4 linked regions of the Homo sapiens genome follow. The protein of the gene in region 2 interacts with the protein of the main gene of each other region in a biochemical or structural test. Each region holds a gene or a part of one and is shown on either strand. Other genes may lie near its edges. The genes, in order: DMD, SNTG2, VCPIP1 and DTNA.

The links.
Region 1: the proteins of SNTG2 (region 2) and DMD form a complex in vitro, tested with the Homo sapiens proteins (one study listed by BioGRID).
Region 3: the proteins of SNTG2 (region 2) and VCPIP1 form a complex in vitro, tested with the Homo sapiens proteins (one study listed by BioGRID).
Region 4: the proteins of SNTG2 (region 2) and DTNA form a complex in vitro, tested with the Homo sapiens proteins (one study listed by BioGRID).

What each region holds. Positions count from the first base shown.
Region 1 is NC_000023.11:33,208,524-33,216,539, forward strand, and holds the start of DMD (dystrophin), read right to left. Parts: upstream 3,027-8,016; 5' UTR 2,790-3,026; coding exon 2,759-2,789; intron 1-2,758. UniProt on the Homo sapiens protein: Anchors the extracellular matrix to the cytoskeleton via F-actin. Ligand for dystroglycan.
Region 2 is NC_000002.12:953,849-960,875, reverse strand, and holds part of SNTG2 (gamma-2-syntrophin), read right to left. Parts: intron 1-7,027. UniProt on the Homo sapiens protein: Adapter protein that binds to and probably organizes the subcellular localization of a variety of proteins. May link various receptors to the actin cytoskeleton and the dystrophin glycoprotein complex.
Region 3 is NC_000008.11:66,657,205-66,664,231, forward strand, and holds part of VCPIP1 (deubiquitinating protein VCPIP1), read right to left. Parts: intron 1-7,027. UniProt on the Homo sapiens protein: Deubiquitinating enzyme involved in DNA repair and reassembly of the Golgi apparatus and the endoplasmic reticulum following mitosis. Necessary for VCP-mediated reassembly of Golgi stacks after mitosis.
Region 4 is NC_000018.10:34,713,294-34,720,320, forward strand, and holds part of DTNA (dystrobrevin alpha), read left to right. Parts: intron 1-7,027. UniProt on the Homo sapiens protein: May be involved in the formation and stability of synapses as well as being involved in the clustering of nicotinic acetylcholine receptors.

The sequences.
Region 1 (8,016 bases), on a different chromosome or scaffold from region 2:
GACAGGGAATGTACATTAGTCTCATTTGTCAATTCCTTAAAAAATGATGTGTGTTTAAAATAGAAAATTTAGAAAAATGAACAGAAAATTATCTTTAAAGAAAGGTTAATTTCTAATTAGACCCTCTTAGGAAACTTTATACCCTGTGATTTGAATGCATATAAATGTGCATATATATAAATATATATACTCATACCAAAATACTGTGTTTCTTGTATGTGTGATGAAATAAAGAGTTGATGAAAAAGTATGATAAATCATTTTTAATAAGTTAGGAAAATATTACAATAGAAGGTGGAAGGAGAAGGAAAGTTTGGGAAATGACTTTGTTTTACTCTTGAGATAAAATTTTGATGAAAGATAATAAAATAGAATTTTGAAAAACACCTGATGTTTCCAAGACAATGATTTTAATCTCTTTTATTAAACTACACAAGTGGTTAAAAACTTGACAATTTGTTTCATATGTAGCAAATGACATGGAGTACAGGGATTTCAAATGAATGCTATAGGAATAAAGAGGAAGCTGTATTAATATCTGTGCCCAAATGATGAATTTGCAATTCAGTACTGTCTAGCTGGAATAGTGTCAGCCAACACCTTTTTCCCCTTAAATAATGTAATTATGCATAGAACACTTTGTAGTCTTTTTTTAAAGTTTAGAGTAACATCTATATGACATACTCTATTGTATTTTTCATAATGTTATGTCATGTAAGATACACCAAAAGCTTTGTATTAACAGTATATCATCAATTTAGATCAGCAATCTCTTTTTCGTAGTTAAGATGTCTTTAAAAGATTCTGCAGATGAAATTCTAAAAGGTGATTTTATTAGACCTCAGATGACTTACATCATTTAAATATATTCAAATGAAATGTCTATTTGCAGTACACTATTTGAATAATTCTTTACAATGCATTATTTGAGTAATTCTAAAAGTGAACAATACAATATGTTTGACAATACAGTGATCTCTTTTAAAGGGTAACTGTTTTGGTTAAAAAACAACAAAACGTACTTTTGTAAGTTTATCAAACTACGGCAAATTTACAAACTGGATTCAAATGTCAAACATCCAAGTAGCAGTATGTTGTCAAACAGCAAAATTTAATGTATAATATAGCCCTGAGTATATCTCCGTTTTTTCTTACCAAACTCATTGTCATGTTGCATAGGCATTACTTGATGATTTTTTAAATGCAGCGTGAAAAAATCCTACAGGGCATGTCCCAAAAAGATTACCTTTCTTCGCATTCTAAGAATTGAAAGTTATTTGAATATCTATGACAAAGCAGAGTGTAGATTTACCTTGCTTAATTTCAGCAGAATTGCATATATTCTTTCAAAATTGCTCTATATACTTGTATATGATGTTAATTATGTAGAATATATATATATATAAAATCACTAGTGATTTTGATGGTATTTATGTTACATATATCAAAGAAATAAAAACAAAAAATAAAAATGTGTGTGTATATTGCAAACAACAGATATATGCCATGCATATATTTGTAATGATAGTAAATATAATAGTTTTTCAATCTAAAAGTAATAATGATGTCCACCAAAAGAAATTTATGAAGCAAGCCAACAATGTAAGTAAATATTGTATTATAAAGTCTGGTAGCTTTTAATGTGACTCAATACATGGACAATGTTAACTTATTTCCACAAAGTTTTCCCAGTGGCAAAACTTCTGCCTTTTTTTTTAGTAGTTGTGGAGCATTACTTATTTGGAGAGATTTATTTTTTCATTCTTAATTATAGGCATTGCCCTCATATCTATTTTAGAATAACTACACTCCACAAGTCAAAGATGGGTGGGGAAGAGATAAACTCCCATCTCTTCGGGACACACAGTCCTTATCATATATTATTTTTACTGTTGTGCCACAGTCCATTTTTAAATCCTTCATTAGTCATCATGACTTTCTTAAAAATAAACGAAATAGTTGTATTTCTATATGAAAGACAAACTAAAAAATTGAACTGAAAAGCTGGCTCATAATAGACATGAAACAACAAGGTGACTTTACTACTAAATATAATTAGGAGTTCCTCAAGTTTGTATGTCGTTTACCCAAGAAATCATCTGATCATTTGATAGCATAGATCACATCATTATTTGAAATAATTATCATGATATGCTACAGAAAAGAGCATTTGAAATAGTAAATGTGAGTAAGAAACATTAAAATTAAATCTTTATCAATACTTTTCACATCCTTCAATTATCCGTCCCAACTCATTTTATTCTTTATTTTATCCATGATGTGTCAGAGAAACTTTTTCTAACTTTTAGGCCTCCATGTAGTTCCTATACAGTAGTTAGTTCAATTGAGAATATATGTCAGGTCAGTAACCTTTATGTAACTGTTACTAAATACGGAAGTATCAACTAATCAAAATAATAACTCAGATATACAAACTATCTCACAGCAATCAAAATAAATCTGTTATAGTCAAATGACATTCTGCATATTCTATTACTGCAGTGGTTTGTTAATCAAGAAATCATGTGTTTAGTTCTATCGCAAAGAAAAACTTTTACACTCCATTTCTGTTGAAAAGTTTTCCCAATGAAAAATATATATTCCTGAATAAATACATATATATATGCAGTATATATAACATTTATGCTTCTTTGCAAACTACTGTGATAATTTAAAATCAATCTACCTAATTAGTGAGCTTGTCACAAACTAAACGTTATGCCACAGTAAAATATATTTTTAGTTACTTTGTACTTACAACAGTCCTCTACTTCTTCCCACCAAAGCATTTTGAAAAGTGTATATCAAGGCAGCGATAAAAAAAACCTGGTAAAAGTTCTTCAAACTTTATTGCTCCAGTAGGCTTAAAAACAATGAGAAACCAACAAACTTCAGCAGCTTTAAAAAAAGTAACACTTCAGTTTTTCCTATTCGTTTTTCTCCGAAGGTAATTGCCTCCCAGATCTGAGTCCTGTAGGGGGAAAGTGAGTGATCCCAACACTGAGTGAGTCAACACAGTAACTGATGCCAGGATTCTGTAGAGGCCCCCGGATATTTCAAATTCCAGGACCTGCGCACAAGCAAGTGACCCGCCTTCTCTCTCAAGTTGGTTTCCCATAATAGGACTGTCCATGGTCACTACATATAAGGTTGTGCTTCCAGCATGGCAAGCTCTGTGAATTCAAACAATGCTCAACTGTGTTCTGATTAATATCCAAACCAGAATAGCACAGTGGACATAGTACTTGCTTTTAAAGCCTTCTAAACACAAAAACTATTCAGTACAAAAGCATAACAATACTTTCTGTAACTTTCATGTGAATTTATTAACAGAGCAGAAAATCCGGATTCAAAATTGACTTTTAAATGCCTTTTTTATCCTCTCAACAACACCAAAAATTTCACTCTACCAAATAAAAAGGAATGCCCAGAATAATCCATGCATTTGTTATGTATCCACTGTCTACCAAAGTTATTTTTTCCCCTTGGGATTCAATCAAAAGTTATGTATTGATGATGCCAACAGTCTGAATAAGAGAAGCAGCAGCAGAATGCAGCAGCTGAATTCTGAAGGCAGAATGTGTGTGTGTATAGGTCTCATGGGACATGTTTTCCTGCTAAAATAAAGAATACTCTTATAATGCAGGAAAGAAATTTTTCTCAAATCCTAAATTTCAGTTGTGAATTATGCTAAAACTTCTTTACTAACAAATTATTCTTTCTTCCATTTCTCTGGTGCCAATTCTTAAAACACCATTTTTTTAGACATTGAGTTAATGATCATTTAATGGTTCTGAATAGAGGCTTGTTTTCTGTATTAAGTGAATACAGTTGTATTATGTCATTCAGCATGTAAATCATTCTTTGCCAATAGAAAGCTTCTTCATCTTGTTCCTTATTACTTTTATGCAACAGGCGAGCCCAAAATTGATAGAAAACATTGGAAACATTTTTTAAAGAAAGATATTCTTTTTATAGTTATAATAATCCCTACTAAAATTTTTGTTTGAGTGTTTTTATTGTACCATTTGTTAAAGTGACAGACTCATTTTTCTATGTCAAACATTCAACTGCTTGCGACTGCAATGAGTAATAGATAAAAATTAAAAAAATATTGAGTCAGACTGTGATGTTTACCTTAATAGTTAATTGTACATTTTGTGTTTTAGAATATTATTGTCATAACATTGCTATTTTCCCCAGCAAAAGGTGTATGAGATAAAACATAAGGCCTAATTTTAATTTAAAACATTCTTTTCCCTAGGTCACCTCCTTTCCTCTCAGTGTGGTTGTCTAAATATGCATATAAGCAAAATTTTCATAAAACAACATAGAAAAAATGAAAAAATTGTTTTGGGGCTGATTTGGCTCTAAGTCTGCATGTTAGCATCAGTGTCCCTCTATGCTGTGAGGTACAATATTGCCCAGAGTATAAGTGCCCTTTGTATCTTGCACTGTGAGTTTTCTACAAACATAAACCCTTGTTTAGGCCAAGGCGTGAATACAACTTGTCGGTCCCAAACCAACATCAATATCACGTGGGAACTTCTGAGAAATGCAAGTTGACACGAGACCTCAAAAGTCAGAAATTCTGGGGTTGGGACACAGCACTCTGTGTTTTACCGGTGATTCTAATGCATGGTCAACTTTGAGAAACCCTAAAGTGTATGTTTCTAAAAACAACCGTGGTTCTAAATGTAACAAAGATGTGTCCTGGGTAATGTCTAAAGCACCAAATCCTGATAGATCTGAATGCCCTGAGATACATTTAATTGCCATTCAGCCTTAGTTGATAATCAGAATTTATTTGGCACCTATAATGATTTCTGCATTGTGTGGAATGCATATACTTCCCTTAAGATTTTATAATCCAGGTGCAAATATATGCTTACAATAACTGGAAAAGTGAAAGGCACGTAAAATAAAATTTAGACCGAACAAATTGAACTCCAGTTCAGACTGTGTCACCACAGTACTTTCTTGTGTCCCTTAATCACTTATCTTTCTCCTTTAGTCCTCAGAATAACTACATCTTGTAGGTCTTATTAGCCCCATAATAAAGGAACTTGCTCAAATTTCCATTTTTAATAACTGTCACAGAATTTTTAAAAATTTATTTTAACTTGTTATTTTCAAATACTTATAGATTCACAGGAATTTGCGGGGATAGTATACAGAGATCCCATGTACCCTTCACCCAGTTTCTCCCAAAGATTAACTACAATAACTACAATTCAGTATCCTACAATAACTACAATTCAGTATCAAAACCAGGAAACTGACATTGATATGTATACATATTTCTATTTCATCACTGATTTGTGTAACCTCAACCTCCACAAATAAACACCTGTTTCATCACCACAGAGATTTGCCTCATGCTACCCCTTTACAGTCACAACAGTCACCCTCCCTAAATATCCCTAAAGCCTGGTACCAATCAATTTGTTCTCCATCACTGTAATTTTGTCATTTTAAGAATATTAGATAAATGCAATGATTCGGTATGTAACCTTTTGAGATTGGCTTTTTTTTTTTTTTTGGCATTCTGTACTTGAGATCCATTTAAGTTGTCATCAATAGCTTATTTCCTTTTATTGCTGAGTAGTAGTTCATGGCATGGATGTTCTATAGTTACTTTATTCACATACTGTGGGATATTTTCGTTGTTTCCAGGGTTTGGTCACTACAAATAAAGCTGCAAAACAATCATGTAGTTTTTCATTTTTCATTCCTCTAGATTCATGTCCCAGAGTGTGGTTATAATTTACCATATAAATTTTAGAATAAGTTTATCTACAAATAGATCTACAGATCTATCTACAGAATATCTTTCAGGTAGAATTTTGATAGGAATTGCATTAAAATTATGAATACATTTTGGAAGAATTGATGTTTTTACCGCATTGATTCCTCCAATTCATTAACATAGTACATATGTCCAATATTTAGGTTATCTTTAATTTATTTCATCATACTCGGCTTTTTTACACAGTGCTTTGTGTTGTGATTAGATATATTAATATTTCTAATATAATGGCACTACTGTCGGTTATGCATGTGATTGCACAAAAAAAGGAAAACAGCAGAGTTTCCAAAACCCGTTCTTTTCCTGTTTGTTTTTGCTTTTTAAGAAATTTTCATTTAAGAGATGGAGGCTTGCTCTGTCATCCAGGCTGGAGTGTAGCGACACAATCATACCTCGTTATAGTCTCAAACTCCTGGGCTCAAGTGATCCTCCTGCCTCAATCTTCTGAGTAGCTGGGTCTACAGGTGAATGCCACCATATTCAGCTAATTTAATATTTTTTTTAGAGACAGGGTCTTGTTATGTTGCGCAGGCTGGTCTTTAACTTCTGGCCTCAAGTAATCCTCCTGCCTCAGCCTCCCCAGGAGCTGGGATTATAGGCATGAGCCACCACACTCGGCCAGTTTGTAAAAAGAAGCACATTTAAAAATGTTTACGTTGTTAAAAAATGTTATATGCTTGTTGGCCGCTTGTATGTCTTCTTTCAAGAAGTGTCTGTTCAGGCCGGGTGTGTTAGCTCATGCCTGTAATTCTATTACTTTGAGAAGTTGAGGCAGGCAGATCGCTTTGAGCTCAGGAGTTCAAGACCAGCCAGGGCGACATGGTGAAACCCCATCTCTAAAAAAAATACAGCCGTGATGTCAGGCGCCTGTCATCACAGCCACTCAGGAGGCTGAGGCTGGAGAATCGCTTGAGCAGGGGAGGTGAAGTTTGCAGTGAGCCGAGACTGTGCCACTGCACTTCAGCCTGGACTAAGAGCAAGACCCTATCTCAAAAAAAAAAAAAAAAGTGTCTGTTCATATACTTTGCCCATTTTTAATGAATGTATTTGTATTTGGTTTGTTGATTTAAGTTTCTTATAGATTCTGGATACTAGGCCTTTGTCAGATGCATATTTTGTGAATATTTTCTCCCATTCTTCGTCTGTTTACTTTGTTGATGTTTCTTTTGCTTTGCAGAAGCTCTTTGGCTTAGTCAAGTTCCACTTGTCAATTTTTGTTTTTGTTGCAATGGCTTTTGGGGACTTAGTCATAAATTCTTTGCCAAGACCAATGTAAAAAAGGGTACTTCCTAGGTTTTCTTCTAGGATTTTTTACAGTATGAGGTCTTATATTTAAACCTTTAGTTCACCGTCAGTTGATTTTTGTATATAATGAAAAGTAGAGGTCCAATTTCAATCTTCTGCATGTGGCCAGCCAGTTTTCCCAGCACCATCTATTGAATAGGAAGTCCTTTCCCCATTGCTTATTTTTGTTGACTTAGTCAAAGATCAGATGGTTATAGGTGTGTCGCTTTGTTTCTGGGTTCACTATTCTGTTCCATTGGTCTATGGTCTGTTTTTGTACCAGTACCATGCTGTTTGGGTTACTGTAGGCTTATAGTATAGCTTGAAGTCAGGTAGTGTGATGCCTCTTGCTTTATTCTTTTAGCTTAAGATTGCTTTGGCTCTATGGGCTCTTTTGGTTCCATACAAATTTGGATTAGTCTTTTCTAATGAAAATGAAAAATGAAAATTGACGTTGGTAGTTTGATAAGATTAGCACTGAATCTGTAAATTGCTTTGGGCAGTATGGCCATTTTAACAATATTTATTCTTCCAATCCAAGAGCATGAAATGTTTTGCATTTATTTGTGTTGTCTCTGATTTCTTTCAGCAGTGTTTTGTAGTTCTCCTTGTATAGTTCTTTCACCTCCTTGGTTAGCTGCATGGTCATGAAAAAGAATGAAATCATGTACTTTGCAGCAAGATGAATGCAGCTGGAGGCCATTATCCTATGCAAATTAACACAGGAACAGAAAACCAAATACCGCATGTTCTCACTTATAAATGGGAGCAAAACACTGAGTACACAGTGGACATAAAGATGGGAACAAGAGATACTGGGGACTACTAGAGGGGGAATGGAGGGAAGCGGGTGTGAGCTGAAAAACTACCTACTGGGTACAATGCTCACTACCTGGGTGACTGGATCATCAGTACCCCAAACC
Region 2 (7,027 bases):
GGAGCACCCCCTTCAGAACCAACAGCCATGCCCGGGAACCCTCAGAGCTCACCGTGCTCCCATGAACAGGCATTAGGAGCACCCCCTTCAGAACCTACAGCCGTGCGTGGGAACCCTCAGAGCTCACCGTGCTCCCATGAGCAGGCAGTAGGAGCACCCCCTTCAGAACCTAGGAACCCTCAGAGCTCACCATGCTCCCATGAGCAGGCAGTAGGAGCACCCCCTTCAGAACCTACAGCCATGCCCGGGAACCCTCAGAGCTCACCGTGCTCCCATGAGCAGGCAGTAGGAGCACCCCCTTCAGAACCTATAGCCGTGCCCCGGAACCCTCAGAGCTCACCGTGCTCCCAGCTCCTCCACGAGGGCAGAGTCCTCTGTCTGCATCCAGCTGAACCCTGAGTTCCAGGGCTCACCTGGGAGACAACAGGAATCCAATCTCACCGATGAGAAAATAAGGCACACATGACCCTACCCTGAAAAGCATCGTGCACTGAAGCATTCCCAACAAAGGAGAGAACAAAGGAGAACAGGCAGCCCGAGCTCTCGGGAGAACTGTGGGGCCCAGAAGCCCAGCATTCCCCACTGTGGGATCCTACCAGGGAACAGGCCTGGCTATCAGCTGGGATTCCTAAGCAACACTGTCACCCTAGTCACAGACGCCTGAGCCAGTGCAGCAAGGACAGGTGCTGCTTTCCAGACAGAAGGGCAAAGGACCGTGTCATTAACAGAGCCCCCTCCTACGGGAACACCTGCCCGAAGCCTCTCCACTGATACAGAAGAACCTTAAGCAGGGGGATGATGGTAATTGATGGATATTTCTTAGCAAACTATGAAAATTATCATTTTATAATGAGAATTCTAAAAAGCAGGATAGAAAATTCTATCTTGAGGATGAGTTTAACTTACAGAATATACACCAGAAAAAGCCAGAAGGAAATCTATGAGCTGCTAGATAGGTATAGACCAGGTCACAGGAACTTTCCTTCCTTGTATTTTTCCATCTCATATTCACTTTCAGTACTGAGATACGGATACCATGCCACTATTCATACAAACATCAAAGGAATAAAGGAAATGTATTTACTCCAAAGAAGGGGATAGGAAGATTCAAATCACATCCCCAAAGGTTCCCTCCATCTGCACAGCGGCACCCGAGATGCAGCCTCCAGCCCCGGGTCACAAAGGCAAGGCCTGCACGATGCAATTCTGTGACACTGGTCTGCTCCGTTCACCTTCTCCATTCAGCCCAAGGCCAGTAAAGCAAAGGCCGCCCTGAGACTTTGCACAGCCCACTGCGGGAACACCACACCCCCAGGCAGCCCCCTGCACCAGGCGACCCTAGCACAGCTGAACCCTGGACCTCCCCCCGACTCCAGGCCTCCCTGACTCCCTTCCTCCTGCCAACATGGAAATTACAAATCTAAAAGCATTCTGATTCCACCCTGATTAAAACCAAAAGAATCTGTAGGTCACGACAAAATTTGATAAAGCTTTGGAAGAAAATAATTGCAATACATAAAGCTCATAGCATTTTCATAGATCTGTGCTGGTCCTCTCCTCAATTCAATAAGGAAGAGTTGCATAAAAGAATATTTACATCCCAGCGCTTACAAAGCACGTAATTCACATATGCAGCTGTTTCCTAGTGGGTTTGTATCTTGTTCTGATAGGAAAGCTTTCAGTTTACTTCCTTTTTTCAGCTACTAGATTTTCCTCTTTATTCGATTACTAAATTTACAATATTATTCAACATAGAAATGAATTTTTTAAATATAATTAAACCTTATATAAGTGTTATACATTACAAAATATATTACAATTTGTTCTATTTCATTTTGTTGCTACAAAGAACAAATGTATTTTATATACAGAGAAAAAGTGGTCTTATCTGTGTGTGAGTCCTTATCCTTTATTACCTTTTGTTATTAGCAGTTTCAGAGTTTGGTTCTAATTTCTTAACTCTTACCCAAGCATCATTGTTTTAGATATCGTACTATCCCAAAATTTTGACTGTCATAAGGCATGTTTGATACTATAACTCCTAACATCAAAATATTAAACTATGTAAGAAATAGTACATTTTACTGTACTACATCTAGAAAGCTAAAATAGAAAATAATTTGGAAGTCCACACAATTTTTTTCATATCTCTCTGGATTTCAAATGAACCACTTTAAAAAAAAAGACCATTTATTTAGATTATAATGTATTTTGGTTACAAATTCATGTTCTCAATACCTTTCAAATTCTTAACCCCAATTTAGATAATGGTGACTTTAGAGGTTTTCTTTTTTTTCCTTTTTAAAGCAATTACAGTGTAGGTAATTGACAAAGCTTCTGCTAGTTCAGCTTCAATAAAATGTCATATCTTTGCAGAGTCTTTTTATGAAAAATCCATCTTGAAGCACCAAATCTGGAGAATATCACATAGTACTCTGCATGATCTCAACATCATTTCACTGCTATGTGTGTGGGGAGGGGCTGCATGAGCTGTTGCCATCTACTCGACTTATGAACCTGTTCCCATTTTGTATGACAACCTCAGTTATAAGAAAACAGTTGTATATTCCTCCTGATTCTGATTTCCTAATTCCTGTTGTTATCCTTTTGTCTCACAAGCAATAACCACTTAAAGGAAACGCATTTGGGGCCATTTCTCAGCCTTTGCACGTGGGATAGAGACATCTCTCTCACAGTCAGACGCCCAGGGGCTGCAGCCACCATGCGGACCACACCTCACCTGCCGTCTCTACAGTCTTATGTGTAGGTGGGGAGCATCAGCAGTACCCCAGGGGTGTTAAAGGAACGAAGCCCTCCAAAGAGCTCTTAGTACCTAGTAGATGTTAGCAATTAGGTAAGTTCTAACCTGGGGGTTCTGGGCTCAAATTCCCTACATTTCTAAGAAGATATTCCCTAAAAGCTATATTACTTACCTAAAAAGACTGATTAGCTTCCCACGGCTGCTATGACAACACTTCCTCAAACTTAGTGGCTTAAAACAATGCACATTTATCTTCTCACAGTTCTGGAAGCCAGAAGTCCAGGATCAAATTCCTCCAGAGGCTCCAGGGAGCCTCCTTCCTGCCTCCTCTAGCTCTGGTGGCTGCAGGTGCCCCTGGCCTGTGACTGCATCTCTCCCGTCTCAGTCTCAGTCTCAGTCTCAGTACCAGTCTCGCCTTCCATGTGCCGGAAGACAAATGTTGCCCGACCTCATCTATAGAAGAGGGAACACATTGTAGCTGCCCTGTGCTGTTTCGTGTCTGCTTGTCTAGAATTTGCCTCTCAGGTAGTCAGGGCCCCACTGGCCTGGTCTGAGAGGTGTTCTACTCTATTTTTATCTTTAGCTTCCAGCTCAGTGTGTGGCAATTAATAGGTACTCAATCATTCTTCTCTAAATTCTGTGTGTCTGTGTCTGCACGTACGTAAGGTGCATCATGATAAAGCAATTCTCCAAATGGCACTTAATCATCGCCAAACCCCCAACTTTCAAAAGGAGGCCTGAGACCCAGAGCTACTTCCCACCACCGTTCCCCATCCGTTGCTCCCCCTCAAGCAGGGAGGTGGTAAAATTTCTAGTGTTTCTGAGGAGGTAATACAAAGGCTGGACTTTCTCTATCTACCTTGCTGCAGACCATGATCGTTTTAGGAATAAAACCAGACTTGGATTTCTTTCAAGACCATATGACCTATGCTAACTATGACCAAGTTGGCACACGTTTCTAAAAACACTGCATCTAACTCATCGGGTTCTGGATGTCCCCAGGTTTAGGTATAAGAAGTAATTTCATATTTCTCAGTACATAAAGAAAACTTAATCATGTAAAAAGGCAAACTGACAGAGCCATTTGGTAAAATATAATTATCTGCAGAGAAGTCATGAAGGATAATCTTGAGCAGGATACAGCTGAGAAATAGAATTATATTTACCATTAAACTTATGCTGATGTGAAAAATTAAAATCAAAACATAGCTATTCTAAAAATATGAAAGCACAATTTTACTTAAATCCAAATAAACTGGGCATAAATACAAAATAAATTATCAGTTCAAAAACCAGAAACGGAACTTTCTCTCTAGTTCATAGAAACACATACATCTAATTCAGATATATACTTATTGGCTCAACTGACACATGGGTCAGCTACCACGCAGCAGGGCAGAACCGAGTTCCCCGGGCTGTGTCCTTCTGAAAGCGGCCCCTCCACGGGCTCACAGCAGCAGGGGACCCAGGTGCCACTTCCCTCCTAGACGCCCGACCGAGATGGGCCCATTCACAGCCACGGGTGGGCCGGGGCCCTGGGGGAGCGGGTCCTCCGCAGGAAGGGGCATGGGTTGCGGGGGCAGGTGCTGCGCCTGGTGAGATGCAGCCTCCAGGAGAGGCAGCTGAGCAAAGGCCCTGGGCCAGGGCAGGCAGCGCTCCACGTGCCCAACCAAGGTGTGTGAAGGCCCGAGGGAGGAAGGATGCAGCCACGGGGTGAGTGGTTATGCTCCAGCCTGGGAAGGGCAGAACACAACCCTGCTCCGGACTGAGCTGCAGAGAGGAGTTTTGGAAAGGTCCGCGCAGAATGCCCAGCAGGGGCAGGCGCAGGGGGAGGTGCAGGGGCAGGGCAGGGGGAGGCGCAGGGGCGGGGCGGGGCAGGGGTGGGGCAGGGGCGGGGCAGGGGCAGGGGCAGTGGCAGGGCAGGGGTAGGTGCAGGGCAGGGGTAGGTGCAGGGCAGGGGCAGGGGCGGGGCGCGGTGGGTGCAGGGCATGGGCAGGGGCAGGGCAGGGGTAGGGGCAGGTGCGGAGCATTTGGCACAAGTCAGGGTCAGGGGTAGGGGCAGGGGCAGGGGCAGGGGCAGGGGCCAGCACAGTCACAAGGGCAGTGGGTGGGGCCAGGGCAGATGCAGATGCAGATGCAGGGGCAGGGGCAGGGGCAGGGAAGGCTCTGAGGCAGGGCCGGAGACAGTGGCAGATGTGGGCCCCTTGGCCTCCCTGGCACCAGCTTCTAAAAGGAGGGTAGCTGGGACCCCAGACTACGGGAGGCCTCCCTGTTCGGAGTGAGAGGACTTGCTAGAGGACTTGCTGCCAAATCCAAAATAAGTGATGATTTTGTTCAGAACAACTGGCAGCTGTATCCCACTTCAAAAATGCAGATTATTTTCTAAACACCCGCTCAACGAACAGAAACATTCTTCCATGGAATCTGAGTGCGTCCCCATGGCTGTGCCCTTACCTATAATAATTTATGAACTACACAATAAAACATCTGCAACTATAAGCATTGTTTACAGAAGTGGAATTTAATTCTTGCACAGGATTTGTCATTTAAACTATTTTGATGAAGGTAGGAGTAATTACAGTGATTTCCTGGTCAGTCCATACTTAGAGACCACTGCCACTGGCTGAGTACAAGAAGAAAGTTTGTCTTCTGGAGCTGGGGTCCAAATAAAAACAAGAGGAAAAGTAAATTTATAAAATGGAGGCCAATAAGCACGATATTTAGGACACTTGATTCTAATGTTCTATGTGATTGTTTTTATAATAACACGATTCGGTGCCATCATCAAATGATGTTCACCCAAATGTCGAGTGAATGTTGGTAACTCCCAGAGTTGATACTCAGAATCTTGACAGTGGAGGGTCACCTTTTTCATTAACACTAATGCGGATTATTGCAAAATAACAGGCCATGCACTGATCTAGGTTTCAAGTCCAGAGAAGTGAATGACATGCAGTTTCTTTACAAAGTATAACAGATAAAACAGAATTAAAACTTAGCAGTTTAGCAGTTAGCAGACTGTGAAGTTTAATAGTTTTTGCACTAAAAATATAACTTTACATTTTACAAATGTTTAGAACAGTATCCCCTAAATAAGAAGCATACTCACTTTCTTAAATCCAAAGTCTTTGCTAAATTAAAATGTAGCTAGTTTATAATCATATTTATAGGATGTAAAAATGTAGACTCCTTAAAAAGCAAACTATTTTAACATGTAATTCTAATTGCAAAATCACATCCTCATATTCACAGCATTGTTAACAGTATTTATTAAAATGTGCAAGGGGAGAAAACAGGAAGGTTCAGGCTGATGGGGTGAAGAAGCAGCACGGTCCCTGGAAGGCAGCCAGAAATGGGTGAGCTTTTGGAGGGCCTTCTTGTTCAGAGGGGCAGGGGATGAAGAGCCACAGGCTGGGGTCAGTCCTCAGGTGAGGGATTACACCCACATAGGGGAGCTTAGCATTTAATACAGAAATAGGAAGGATAACCTCGGCTTCCTGAATTTTACAGGGAACTTTAGTATGGACTGGGGGAAAGTGACATCTAGTGTTAGCTGAAAATAATCCAAAGTCGACTATTCAAAACTACAGTCATGACAACATGCGGTAACCAGCTGGACAACAATGACAAGTACACACCAGTTCAAGGTCCATTTTCCATTAAATCCTGAGTGCATTTTTCCTCCAAAAGCATGTTTTCCACCTTCCTTGTTGTGTCTCACTCAACAAAAATACCTCTAGAACTAATTAAAGAGTGAGTTTCTGAGGGATTTGGAATCAGATACAAAGTGACCTTCGGAACCCAAGCACACATTCCACAGGTGAGAAGCCAGAGCCAGAGAGGATGGTGGTTCCCGAAGCCGGGGTTCTCTGAGTTCCCTGGAACCCTGATCTCCCTCCTTCCTTCTCCATTTCCACGAGCACCTGCCTGTGTCCGCCCCATGCCCAGCAGCGCAGGAGCTAGGGGTGCGCAGCAGAGCCTGAGAGCAGCTCCTCTTTGGGGTCCCTCGTGTGCCTGCTGTCACATGCTACATGAGCTAACAGGAAAGCCAGAAAATCACACTGCTTAGTAAGTCTATCCTGAATATACCCATTTAGTAAATAGGAGGCCTGCGATGCAAACACACCCTCTGTCACCGAGAACTGCAATGCCAGCCCCTCTGCCAACTCACTCAGAGCCTCATGGGGTATCTTGAGAAGCAGATCTAAATTAAAACTGAAGCTTAAATGCCTTGTCTACAGTCATCATCCATAAAGATATCCAGAG
Region 3 (7,027 bases), on a different chromosome or scaffold from region 2:
AAAATGTATTTTTAAAGCCCCAAAAGAAACACCCAAAACGAACTCTGAACTCAACTATTTATGACCATAAAATGAAGTACTTGTTTATTTAAATTTAAAATTTAAAGAAACAATTCAAAATTTTTTAATAATTTGAATAAATGGTTCCAAATATAAAGTAGGAACACAGGACTGTTTCAACTAGACAGAATTCCAAAGGTAAAGGTATTCATTTGCTGAAAGAATTGTTGGCATCTCTCTACCCTTCCTGACGTAATCCTCACGTTTAAAAGTTTATCTACCCTATTGATAGTCAAAATGGTTTATAAAAAAGGCATATCTGTTTCTTGCCTGAAATTCAGTCCCCTTAACGGTATATAGTCACACAACTTTAGTGTCACCAGCAGCATTAATGAATATTTTTATCATACACAGACATGCACACAAACTCAACAGTGTTTAAATGTGTACAGAGTCTGAAAGGACACATCCCAATTTATTAATAATGATTTTATCTGGGGAGTACAAATGTTAAGAACTACCATATTTTATAGGTACTTGAATTATTTGAATTTTAAACATTATATTGTAATTGAAAAAATATTTAAAATAAAAGTGATCAAAGTAGTTGGAACAGAATCTATTATTATCTAGATTTCCTTTTCTATCTAGAAAGGAATAACATCAATATTTGACTTAATTTTCAAAGTATAATTATATAAAATCACCATTTACAATATATACATTTATCTTAAGATACACCTATGCATTATTTTTTATTCAACTTTATAACTGCTCTCCCATTACAAGTATGCTACATATAAATCAACAGAAGGGCTATCAGAAGGCATAGAAAGAATAATAATATGCAGCCAGACACGGTGGCTCACGCCTGTAATCCCAGCACTTTGGGAGGCCCAGGTGGGCGGATCACGAGGTCAGGAGTTCGAGACCAGCCCAGCCAACATGGTGAAACCCCGTCTCTACTAAAAATACAAAAATTAGCCAGGTGTTGTGGCAGGCGCCTGTAATTCCAGCTACTCGGGAGGCTGAGGCAGGAGAATCGCTTGAAACTGGGAGGCAGAGGTTGCAGTGAGCCGAGATTGCACCACTGCACTCCAGCCTGAGCGACAGAGCAAGGCTCCATCTTGGGGAAAAAAAAAAAAAAAAAGAAGAATATGCATAAGTACTATCTAGATTTGAAACTGCCCTTTACCCAACATTTGAAAAAAAAAAAGGTGCAATAATAATATTCAGTTGTCACCTAAAAAATAAGTGTCTCAGTCCCAAGCGTGATTCTGGAAAATTCTTTTTTTCTTTTTTTGAGACAGAGTCTCACTCTGTCACCAGGCTGGAGTGCAATGGCATGATCTTGGCTCACTACAACCTCCGCCTCCTGGGTTCAAGTGATTCTCCTGCCTCAACCTCCTGAGTAGCTGGGATTACAGGCGAGCGCCATCATGCCCGGCTAATTTTTGTATTTTTAGTAGAGACGGGGTTTCACCATCTTGGCCAGCCTGGTCTCAAACTCCTGACCTCATGATCCACCCGCCTCAGCCTCCCAAAATGCTGGATTAAATGCGTGAGCCACCGCACCCAGCCGATTCTGGAAAATTCTAAGGCATTTACGACATCAAGAGGTATTATGAAATTACAAAATATTGTGTATTTTAAATATATATATACGTTAAAAAGCCACACAATTCTTTCAGGAACAGAGAAAGTATATCAAAATGAAACAAGTTTCTCAACTCCTGAAAGGTTGGTACACTTTGTAGTAAAGCAAGGAAGTGTCATGTAGCCTAATTTCATTTAAGTAACTCCAAACTGACAAATTCTGTTCTTCACCTAAATCTGTCCTTACCTCTAGGAAAACAAAAAAACAAACAAAACTAGAAACTTAATGAAATATAACACTAAGAAAAAATAAATTAGCCCAAATATTTATGGTGGATAATGTACCACCTATCCTGTCTACCATGAAAGAAAACCTACAAATAACTGATCTACAAGAAATTTTTTTTTTTTTTTTGGAAAGAGTGTTGCTCTGTTGCCCAGACTGGAGTGCAGTGGCGCAATCTTGGCTCACTGCAACCGCACCAGGTCTACAAGAAATCTGAATGACATATTTTGCAAAGCCAGAGTTAGTCTTTTAAGTATTATATAAATAATGAAGATGACTGTCTGCAAAAAATTAAGTTCAATTACTTTGTGGTCTGGATAAAAGAGATTAAAAATGTAAAATATTATGGGTAAAATATTGTTATTCCATTTTATAGTTCCTAAGATTCAAAGTTACTAGGTTCCATGAATGACTTGTACTAAGCCAAAGACTAATACACCTACTTATTGTTTTATTAATATAAGTAATAGACGATCTAATCAATGAATATCCTACTTAAAAATGAAAGAAAAAGCTCATGTCCCTGGCTATCATGCAGTCAGCCCATTTAGTGAAAACATACAGGCCGGGTGCAGTGGCTCACGCCTGTAATCCTAGCACTTTGGGAAGCCGAGGCGGTGGATTGTCTGAGCTCAGGAGTTCGAGACCAGCATGGGCAACGTGGCGAAACCCCATCTCTACTAAAAATACAAAAAATTAGCTGGGCGTGGTGGTGCGCACCTGTAGTCCCAGCTACTTGAGAGGTTGAGAATCACTTGGACCCAGGAAGCAGAGGTTGCAGTGAGCTGGGATCACACCACTGCACTCCAGGCTGGGCGACAATCTGTCTCCAGAAAAAAAAAAGAAAGAAAATATACAATCCCCATGTATATATTTGATTCTTAATCAAATGAGAAGTTCTAAAATGCTGTGTTGGTCCTATTTGGGGATTTTATAATTTTTATGTATTTAGAAAATAAAGCTGGAGATCTGCTGATGAAAGCTAAAAAGTATGGAACTCCTTCAGCTGAAAGCCTGCAGGTAAGTTAATGGAGGGCAAGCACTGACTTTCATTTATCTTTGTACACTCAACATACATACAAGTTCATAGTATACACTGATTTTGCTGAAATAATTGCATTCATTAATCCAACAAGCATTTACTTGGTACCTACTATGTGCCAGGCCCTGAACTAGGAAATAAGGTATTGATTAGTGAAGAAAATAGGGTTCAGTCTCTGTCTTGATGGACTTTATAATATAGTGGGGGAGGCAAACAAATAATTAAACCAACAAATAAGATTATTAAAAATTGTGATAGATGCCGTGAGGGACATCAACAGGGTACACTGATAGAGGGAACCTACTTAGAATGGTCAGCAAAGTTTTCTCAAACCCTTACAGGGTGGTGGTATTTAAGCCTAAACTTAAACGAGAAAGAACCAGCTATTTGAACAGCATAAAGTCTGATGAGCTATATTCTAAACTAACATAACACAGCTTAGCTCACATTTGGTAATTCACAAAGTAATTTCTGCACTTTGAAATCTGTAATCTTCTAAACAAGCTCTGTCATTTTCTAGTCCTCTCCAATCTAAACATCAACAGTTCCCCAGTACTCTTTACATATGGTTAGTATTTATCCCCAAACTGAATTTTGTAGGAACATCTTTTTTTTTAAATTAAGAATATCTTCGGCCAGGCGCAGTGGCTCATGCCTGTAATCCCAGCACTTTGGGAGGCCGAGGAGGGCGGATCCCCTGAGGTCGGGAGTTCAAGACCAGCCTGACCAACATGGAGAAACTCTCTCTCTATTAAAATACAAAAATTAGCTGGGTGTGGTGGCACGTGCTTGTAATCCCAGCTACTTGGGAGGCTGAGGCACGACAATTGCTTGAACCCAGGAGGCAGAGGTTGCAGTGAGCCGAGATCGCACCACTGCACTCCAGCCTGGCGACACTGCGAGACTCTGTCTCAAAAAAAAAATCTTCTACATAATTCAAATACAGTCATAAGCGAACTAGAGGAAGAAAACTAAGATTTATAAGGGACTAATATAATACAGGCTATGCACTTAATACTTCAATTTAAAGCAGAAAGTATCTCAAGTGATATCATTACAAAAGTAACACAATGCTCTCTTTTACACCCAAATTTTGTGTTGGTAGTGGAAGAAGTTTTAAAGAAATTTGTGGGTTTATACAGGCATAAATGCTGGATATGAAGAGGGAAGGGATCAGAATAGAAAGACATTATCTTGGTGAACTCATTGCAGTCCATACTCTAGGTTCTCTCAGATATTCAGGTCCAAGAACCTCCAACCAAACTCAGAAAGTATTTATACACCAGAATTATATTTGATTAATTTTCATTATGAAATATATTATCAACCAGGCACAGTGACTCACGCCTGTAATCCCAGCACTTTGGGAGGCCGAGGCGGGCGGTTCATGAGATCAGAAGATTGAGACCATCCCAGCTAACACGGTGAAACCCTGTCTCTACTAAAAATACAAAAAAATTAGCCAGGTGTGGTGGCACATGCCTGTAATCCCAGCTACTCAGGAGGCTGAGGCAGGAGAATCATTTGAACCCAGGTAGCAGAGGTTGCAATGAGCTGAGATCGCGCCACTGCATTCCAGCCTGGGCGACAGAGTGAGACTCTGTCTCAAAAATCTATATATAATCATACCGATCAGATTTTTTTTTTTTTTTTGAGATACAGTCTTGTTCTGTCGCCCAGGATGGAGTGCAGTGGCACGATCTCGGCTCACTGCAACCTCTGCCTCCCCGGTTCACAAGATTCTCCTGCCTCAGCCTCCTGACAAGCTGGGACTACAGGCTCCTGCCACCACACCCGGCTTATTTTTTTTTTGTATTTTTAGTAGAAACAGGGTTTCACCATCTTAGCCAGGATGGTCTCGAACTCCTGACCTCGTGATCTGCCCGCCTCAGCCTCCCAAAGTGCTGGGATTACAGGCATGAGCCACCGTGACTGGCTCTGATCATATTTTTAAGACTACTGATCATAATCCTGCCCATGTCCGTTTATTAGTCTACAATGGAGAATACAGCTTTCAAAGTGAACACGTCCTTATCTGCACTGTCACCTGTACATCAAAACTTGTTATCAGGAAGCTAAATAAGTGTTACGAATAGATGCCTGATGAACATGGAAATCAGGCAAAGGGATAGAGATGTTTCAGCCAGGCCACAGTCAGGATTGTTCAAATATTCCTACCCCTCGACAGAGATTACCTTTCTAGTTACCAGAATTTTCATGAACCCCAGATGATGTACCTTTTTCCTTTGTACAGCAGTATATGAACATTGCCGAATTCTGCTTTTCACTTTTTTCAATGTTCAGTGCTGACTGACCATCCATTCCATTTCTGCAGATACAGCCTTTCTTTAGCTGTGTTAATGTCATCTATTTAATTCAATTAAAAAACATTTCAGAGTGCATACTACCTGCTGAGCACTATTATCAGGTTCTGTGCATACAAGGATAAAGGTAAGAGCCACATTCTCAAGAGTCCATCTTCTATTGAGGAAGATCTTCTCTTTCCTGTTTTTGACCTGGGAGATTGAAGGTCTTTTATTTATTTACTTATTCATTTATTTATTTATTTTTTGAGACAGAGTCTCGCTCTGTCGCCAGGCTGGAGTGCCGTGGCGCGATCTAGGCTCACCGCAACCTCCAACTCCGGGGTTGAAGCGATTCTCCTGCCTCAGCCTCCAGAGTATCTGGGATTACAGTCACAGGCCACCTAGGATTTGTATTTAAGTACACTAGCATTCGTATTTAAGTGACCTTGATCACAAGGTCAGGAGATCAGGACCATCCTGGTCAACAAGTTGAAACCCCGTCTCTACTAAAAATACAAAAATTAGCTGGGCATGGAGGCGTGGGCCTGTAGTCCCAGCTACTTGGGAGGCTGAGGCAGGAGAATTGCTTGAACCCGGGAGGTGGAGTTTGCAGTGAGCCGAGATGGCGCCACTGCACTCCAGCCTGGAGACAGAGCAAGACTCCATCTCAAAAAAAAAAGAAAAAAAAAAAAGAAATATATAAAGTGCGTAGGACAGTTCCTGACATACTCCCCAATTCAATTACTATGTCTGGCAAACTAAAATCAACAATTCCGGGTTCTAAATTTGTGCAGGGTTTTTAGATCCCCTATTTACTACTCCCCCAGATAAGCCAGGAGTAGTATTCATTTTGATAGATTAAGGCCCAAATCACTGCCATATAGTACTATCAGAAAACAGAATCAAAACCCAGATGACTTTTCTCGTTGAAAGCTTTAATCTCAGCAAAAATAAAACCCTTCCAGTAACTAACACATTTAAATTTTACTTCATACTTTAAGACTTAGTAAAGCATACTAAGTTATTTCAAAACAAAGACTAAGCAAATATAGACACTGTAAAAAGTACACCATTGAACAGTATCCCAAATCATCTAAAGCTTTAAATTACACATTTGGTTAATATATTTTTCTTTAATTTATGCTGATTAAAAACAAATACTTCTTTACACCATTACCATCCATCTCTGTTTATGTTTCTCATGAACTACAACTTATAACAGTTCATTATAATTGATGGCAAAGACTTGAGTAGTGAAATTACTTAAATACAAATCCTAGTGTACTTACATACAAATCCTAGTGTATGAGAAAGAAAAATGTGATGAACTGGGAAAGGAAGAAAATGAAATGTAAGAGACTACTAGGTGGGAGTGCAGTGAGAATATAAACACCAGAAACTGCAATTCATCAAACAGGAAGTGCTGAAATCACATGACATACAGGAAAATAAAAATTAAAAATAAATGAAAAAGGGGCAAGGTAGGCAGGATCAATAGAGCCTACCAAAAAATTTAAAACGCTTTAAATAAATACAAGTCTGTTTTTTAAAAAGCAATTGCAAGAATAAGATATATTTAAATAATCTGTTGACTATTATTGAGGGACTACCTTAACTTTCTATTTTCCTAATAGTTACTCAATAATCCTATTAACATCTATCAACTGTTCAAAATACTAAAAATAATTCTCTCCTGAAATATATAATTAAAAACTTACAATGGCTACAGATTTCTTTTCCCCCAAAGATAACAGGAAAACTCAGTGTATTATATTTACAATTAAGATATACCATCAG
Region 4 (7,027 bases), on a different chromosome or scaffold from region 2:
TTAACCCTCAAATTTAATTAATTATGTTAATAGCATTTATAAGTCACTAGGAATAGAGGTGCTTGGTATGTTATTATCAGACTTTATTATAAAATATCTTGGTTTTGTTCAATAAGCGATAGAGGCTGTCATCAAAAATGATTAAACTTAGATATGCAGCGTTATTTCTGAGGGCTCTGTTCTGTTCCATTGATCTATATCTCTGTTTTGGTACCAGTACCATGCTGTTTTGGTTACTGTAGCCTTGTAGTATAGTTTGAAGTCAGGTAGTGTGATGCCTCCAGCTTTGTTCTTTTGGCTTAGGATTGACTTGGCGATGCGGGCTCTTTTTTGGTTCCATATGAACTTTAAAGTAGTTTTTTCCAATTCTGTGAAGAAAGGCATTGGTAGCTTGATGGGGATGGCATTGAATCTGTAAATTACCTTGGGCAGTATGGCCATTTCCACGATATTGATTCTTCCTACCCATGAGCATGGAATGTTTGTATCCTCTTTTATTTCCTTGAGCAGTGGTTTGTAGTTCTCCTTGAAGAGGTCCTTCACATCCCTTGTAAGTTGGATTCCTAGGTATTTTATTCTCTTTGAAGCAATTGTGAATGGGAGTTCACTCATGATTTGGCTCTCTGTCTGTTGTTGGTGTATAAGAATGCTGATCTTTGACAAACCTGAGAAAAACAAGCAATGGGGAAAGGATTCCCTATTTAATAAATGGTGCTGGGAAAACTGGCTAGCCATATGTAGAAAGCTGAAACTGGATCCCTTCCTTACACCTTATACAAAAATCAATTCAAGATGGATTAAAGACTTAAACGTTAGACCTAACACCATAAAAACCCTAGAAGAAAACCTAGGCATTGCCATTCAGGACATAGGCATGGGCAAGGACTTCATGTCTAAAACACCAAAAGCAATGGCAACAAAAGACAAAATTGACAAATGGGATCTAATTAAACTAAAGAGCTTCTCCACAGCAAAAGAAACTACCATCAGAGTGAACAGGCAACCTACAAAATGGGAGAAAATTTTCGCAACCTACTCATCTGACAAAGGGCTAATATCCAGAATCTACAATGAACTCAAACAAATTTACAAGAAAAAAAACAAACAACCCCATCAAAAAGTGGGCAAAGGACATGAACAGACACTTCTCAAAAGAAGACATTTATGCAGCCAAAAAACACATGAAAAAATGCTCACCATCACTGGCCATCAGAGAAATGCAAATCAAAACCACAATGAGATACCATCTCACACCAGTTAGAATGGCAATCATTAAAAAGTCAGGAAACAACAGGTGCTGGAGAGGATGTGGAGAAATAGGAACACTTTTACACTGTTGGTGGGACTGTAAACTAGTTCAACCATTGTGGAAGTCAGTGTGGCGATTCCTCAGGGATCTAGAACTAGAAATACCATTTGACCCAGCCACCCATAAATCATGCTGCTATAAAGACACATGCACACGTATGTTTATTGTGGCATTATTCACGATAGCAAAGACTTGGAACCAAGCCAAACGTCCAACAATGATAGACTGGATTAAGAAAATGTGGCACATACACACCATGGAATACTATGCAGCCATAAAAAATAATGAGTTCATGTCCTTTGTAGGGACATGGATGAAACTGGAAATCATCACTCTCAGTAAACTATCGCAAGAACAAAAAACCAAACACCGCATATTCTCACTCATAGGTGGGAATTGAACAATGAGATCACATGGACACAGGAAGGGGAATATCACACTCTGGGGACTGTTGTGGGATGGGGGGAGGGGGGAGGGATAGCATTGGGAGATATACCTAATGCTAGATGACGAGTTAGTGGGTGCAGCACACCAGCATGGCACATGTATACATATGTAACTAACCTGCACAATGTGCACATGTACCCTAAAACTTAAAGTATAATAATAAAAAATAGAAAAAAAAATGATTAAACTTATCAAGAATTGTACAATGTGTGGGTCAGTATCTGACAGGAAAAATGCAAACTCATTTCTAGGAAAGAACAATTAGTTATATTTTTAGTATATAAAGGGGCAATTAACTGGTCTTCACTTCATGGTATTATTAGCTGGATATTTTAGAGTGGTATTACTATAATAATTCCCCACTCTCAAACACACATGTTATGAAATGTTCACTAGACACCATTTCAATATTTTAATTGTTTTTAATTTTTTAATTATTTATTTTAAATAAACAATATTTTATATCTGAAACCTGTTAATTTTGATTTGTTTGGTGGAACATTTACTCAGAAAAATTACTTACCTCTACACATCCCTGACATGAAAGAAAATACTGGATGGATTGGCAATTCCAGTATAAAATATGGATCTATGAAAGTAGTGAAAGAAAATATAGAACTTATGATAGAAAAGGATGACCTCAAAGACAAAAATCATAAAGGAATGGTAATATGAAAACTTACTCCTTCTAGAATATGTTATATACAAAATTAAAAAGATAAATGGCAAATTAGAAACAACATTTGCAACATATATGAAAGAGAAAAAGTGAATATCCATGTTATGTAATGAGGTCTCATAAATCTGTAAGAAAAAGCACTTCCCTTTTAATTTTAAAAATATCTACAAATTAAACACATGTCATTTTAATAATTAGCAACTATTTTTTAAAGGGGAAAGCAAAAGGAGGAAGGGGGAGATAATGTCTGGTTTAGGAAAAGTCTGGAAAATGGGAACACATATACACTGCTATCATATAGCAGTGTACACTGGGTGCAGGTGGGGAGTTGATCAAGCTGGCAATGTGTAGCAAAGTCTTTAAAAATTGCATATCCTTGGGCCCTACAGTTCTACTACTAGGAATATGTCCTAACAAAATAAATAGTCTAACGTATTTACATAGTTTTTCGTTGTTTCAGACAATAGCAGTCTGAAAAAGAAAATCCAAGAAATATAGAAAACACATGAGCTCGTATTTCCTCTCTAGAAGCTATAAAGCTGTAAGAAGTCGGCCGGGCACCGTGGCTCACACCTGTTATCCCAACACTTTGGGAGGCCGAGGCGGGTGGATCGCCTGAGATCAGGAGTTGGAGACCAGCCTGGCCAACGTAGTGAAACCCCATCTGTCCTAAAAATACAAAAAATTAGCTGGGCGTGGTGGCAGGCGCCTGTAATCCCAGCTACTTGTGAGGCTGAGGCAAGAGAATCGCTTGAACCCAGGAGGCGGAGGTTGCAGTGAGCCGAGATCACACCATTGTACTCCGGCCTGGGCAACAAGAGTGAAACTCCATCTCAATTAAAAGAAAGAAAGAAAAAAAGCTGCAAGAAGTCATAGACATGGCTATATGCTGGTCTAACTGTTGACTTCCCAACTCTTTAGATGGAACATGTATAGGCAACATGGTGTAGAAAAAGAGTCTTGGCTTAAGAATTGGAATGCCTGAATCATGCTACTAACTAGCTGAGTTAATATAAATATGCAAATTTATGAAATTATTAAAATAATAATGTTAAAGAGTAGAAAAGTCTGTGAATCCCTTTACCCATGTATATGTGTTTGTCTTCACCGCTGATTTGCAAATAAGAAGTCTCATATCAAGTGGGAAGGGTAGATTTTTATAATTTCACTGAAATTCAATACCAAATGGTAAAATCTGGAATGCCTTGACTGTGAGAGAAAATAACAAAATATTTTAAATAGGGTATACATTCCAATTATTAGTTTTTGAAATTTATTCTAAAGAAATTTCTGCTCATATAAGGATGGGCAGAGGATAACTGGGCTTGAATAACTGGGCCACACCTACATTTAGGTGTGGTGGAGAGGCAGAGCTCCAGAGCAATCTGTTCAAAATTCTGTGATGCTGGAAATGCTCTATATCTTCTTAGTCCAATATAGTAACTACTAGCCACATGTGGCTATTAAACACTTGAAAGGTAGCTAGTGCGACTGATGAAACAGATTTCAAATCTTATTTAATGCTAAGTAATTGAAATAGCCACGTGTGTCTAGTGCTATCTTAATAGACAGTGACACTCTAGAATTAAGCACAACAAATAGGGTCTTTTATTTAATATCGGAGGTTAATTTCAAGCACCTCTGCTAAATTCGGATGATATAGATAGGACAAGAAGGTGAGTATTCTTTGTGCAATTTCCCTTTTATCTACAGAAATACAGATCAATGAAATCCTTTGATTCTAGTGACTGCAAGTCCAAGATTTTCCAGAGAAGTGTTGGTCTCAAGTAGTCTGTAGTTTTGTTTGCTTAAGAATTTTAATGCTCATTCATTTTCTCATTTATTTTTTTTAAAAAACCTTATATTGAATATATTTGTGTTGGACACTGACATTGAAAAGATAGTAGTAGTGCAGAGTTCCTTGATTCAGGAAATCCTTGGAGTATCCTAAGGAGTAAATGGTGCAGAGCAGATATTACAGAGGAGGGGAGAGAAAATGCTGTGTGGAGAAGGAAGCACTGGGATAAACCTTAAAGAAATGGCCAGTGTTCAATAGGAAGCTGGGGAAAGGAGGATCTTGAGAAACAGAACAGTATGGGAAAACCAGGGAGAGATGAGAATCAGAAATGTCTGGAAATGTAATAATGGCAGCAGCACAGAAAATAGACTAGTGTGTAGACAGAAATGAGTCCAGAAGTTAATGTTACAATCCAGAACAAGTATGAGGGAGGTTATGAGCTAAGGGGATGAAAGTAGAATTTAAAAAGAGTAGATTTGAGAGGTGTTTTGTCTGTTGCTTCTCTTTACAATAAGTCAGGTAGAGAACAACTGATTTATCTTTTAAGCCCCCTTGAAAATTGTCGATTACTGCATACAATGCTGGAGCAGGATTTTTGTGGCCAAGGAAACTGAGCGTATCTTACAATATGCAAGTTTTTCAAACAGGACCAACTTACATAAATCATCCTCTTGGAAGTAGGCGCAACTACATCATGTATGTAGTTGAAATGTATGACACATGACAATTTTGTTTGGGGATGTAATGTAACTGAGGTGGAAACTTAATATTTATGAGACTTCCTCTTTCGTTAAAATCTTAACATTCTTTGATTTTGACAAATAGTGTTTTTATTTCTTCCAAAAATACAAGAATTTTAAAAGTATATAATTAGGCATCGTTTAGAAAGGTCAAAAAAGCAATCGTCTGTTGAATTTATGATTTGGGTACATTATTCTTCTCCAGTCTTTACCCCATTTTGATGGACTTTTTTCTCTTGGCAGTATATCCAGGTTCATTTATAGGTGGGAAGACAGTAGAAGCTGTTATTCCAGCATCAAAGCCCCCACTGTTTTCTAATAAGACGTTAGGTTTTATTTCTTCCAAAGCCTTATGATCACTGCAGTCAAAAAAAGAAGGGTGGAAAATGCAGAAAAATGGTGGAGGAGGTGGAGTATGGTCTTGGTCATAAAGAAATGAAAGGAGAAAGGTATTACTGAAGAGTATGGGCATTAGTCTGACTGTAAGGAGGACTTTGGCAGTAACTACAAGCCAGAGTGAGTGAGGAAAGAATAGCAGCCATTTGGGCAATGTGCTGACCATGTGTGGCTTGATACTAGGAAACCTGAACATACAGCAGGACAGAGAGGAGCACATCATGTGAGAGTTCCATGAGTTCTCGGATTTAAGAAAATAGAAGACTTTCTAAGTGCCAGATACTGTTCTAAGTACTTTTTGTTTAACCTATTTAAGGCAATTAACCCTTTTTTTTTGGAGAACAGTCATAGAACATGGAAATCACTGAAGAAATGTAAGTAGTGGTGGGATGCAGTGGCTCACGTCTGTAATCCCAGTACTTTGGGAGGCTAAGGTGGGTGGATCACCTGAGGTCAGGAGTTCAAGACCAGTCTGGCACCAACATGGCGAAACCCCGTCTCTACTAAAAATACAAAAACAAAACAAAAACTAGCCAGGCATGGTGGTGTGGGTCTACTGTAGTCCCAGCTACTCAGGAGGCTGAGGCAGGAGAATCACTTGAACCAGGGAGGTGAAGGTTGCAGTGACCCCAGATCGCACCACTGCATTCTAGCCTGGGTGACAGAGTGAGACTTCATCTCAAAAAATAAAAAAATAAAAAAATAAGTAGTTATTATCTCTCCATCAATCCTCACAACAACCCTATGAGCAGGGTACTTTTACCATCTTTATTTTACAGATGAAGAAATTAAGGCCCGAGAGGTTAAGTAATCCCCCAAACAGCATACAGTTAATCAGAGAGAGCTCTATTTAATCAGCTCAACTACTACGCCATCCTGCCTACTCTTAATCTATGTTAATTTTATAATATGTACAGAGATGATACTTGTAACGTGCTCACAAAGTGCCTGACATATAGTAAACCTGCAAAAATGTTAGCAATTATCATTATGTAATAAGATTTAGAAGACTTTCCGGTATTTATGTCATTCTACACCGACACTGCTCAGAAATAGTAACAAGATTTTTAGGGCAGCTCTGGATTTTTCTTATGTAAAGTGTAAAGAAAGCTTTGTTTAGGAGCATGCCCTTATAAATTGGAGAAACTCTTCTTCTACCCAAATACTGTCAATCAGTTTGACTGGCACAGTTGAAGTTTTTACCTCAAAGAATGGGCCTCATTGAAATGTTCTATATACTCATCTACATGGCTCTGACCTTCTGACAGAGAATGACTGCTGCTAATGGTACTAATAAGAGCAAATGGAATTCCCTTCCAAGCTTGGTATTTGAATAATATGTCAATTTGTTCATTGCCGTCTTACTAGGAATTAAATGCGCTAATATTTTTATAACCTAAGGGAGCTAGTGCGAGGTTGGCAGCCAGAAAAGGGAATCAGGCCAGAGGCTGGCCAAGGCATAGTCATGAGGGGGTGGAAGGGTCACAAAGTCAAAGTCAAGCAGGTGGACCCAGGCAGAACCCAACCAGACTCTAGAACAAAGTTAGGTTCAAAGTTTGGTTCTTATCTCCTTTCCCTATAATGTGGGCTGGTAGGGGTGGGTTGATTGTCATCCTCTGTACAAAAAGAATTGTATGGAAAATTAGCTGGCTCTGAAA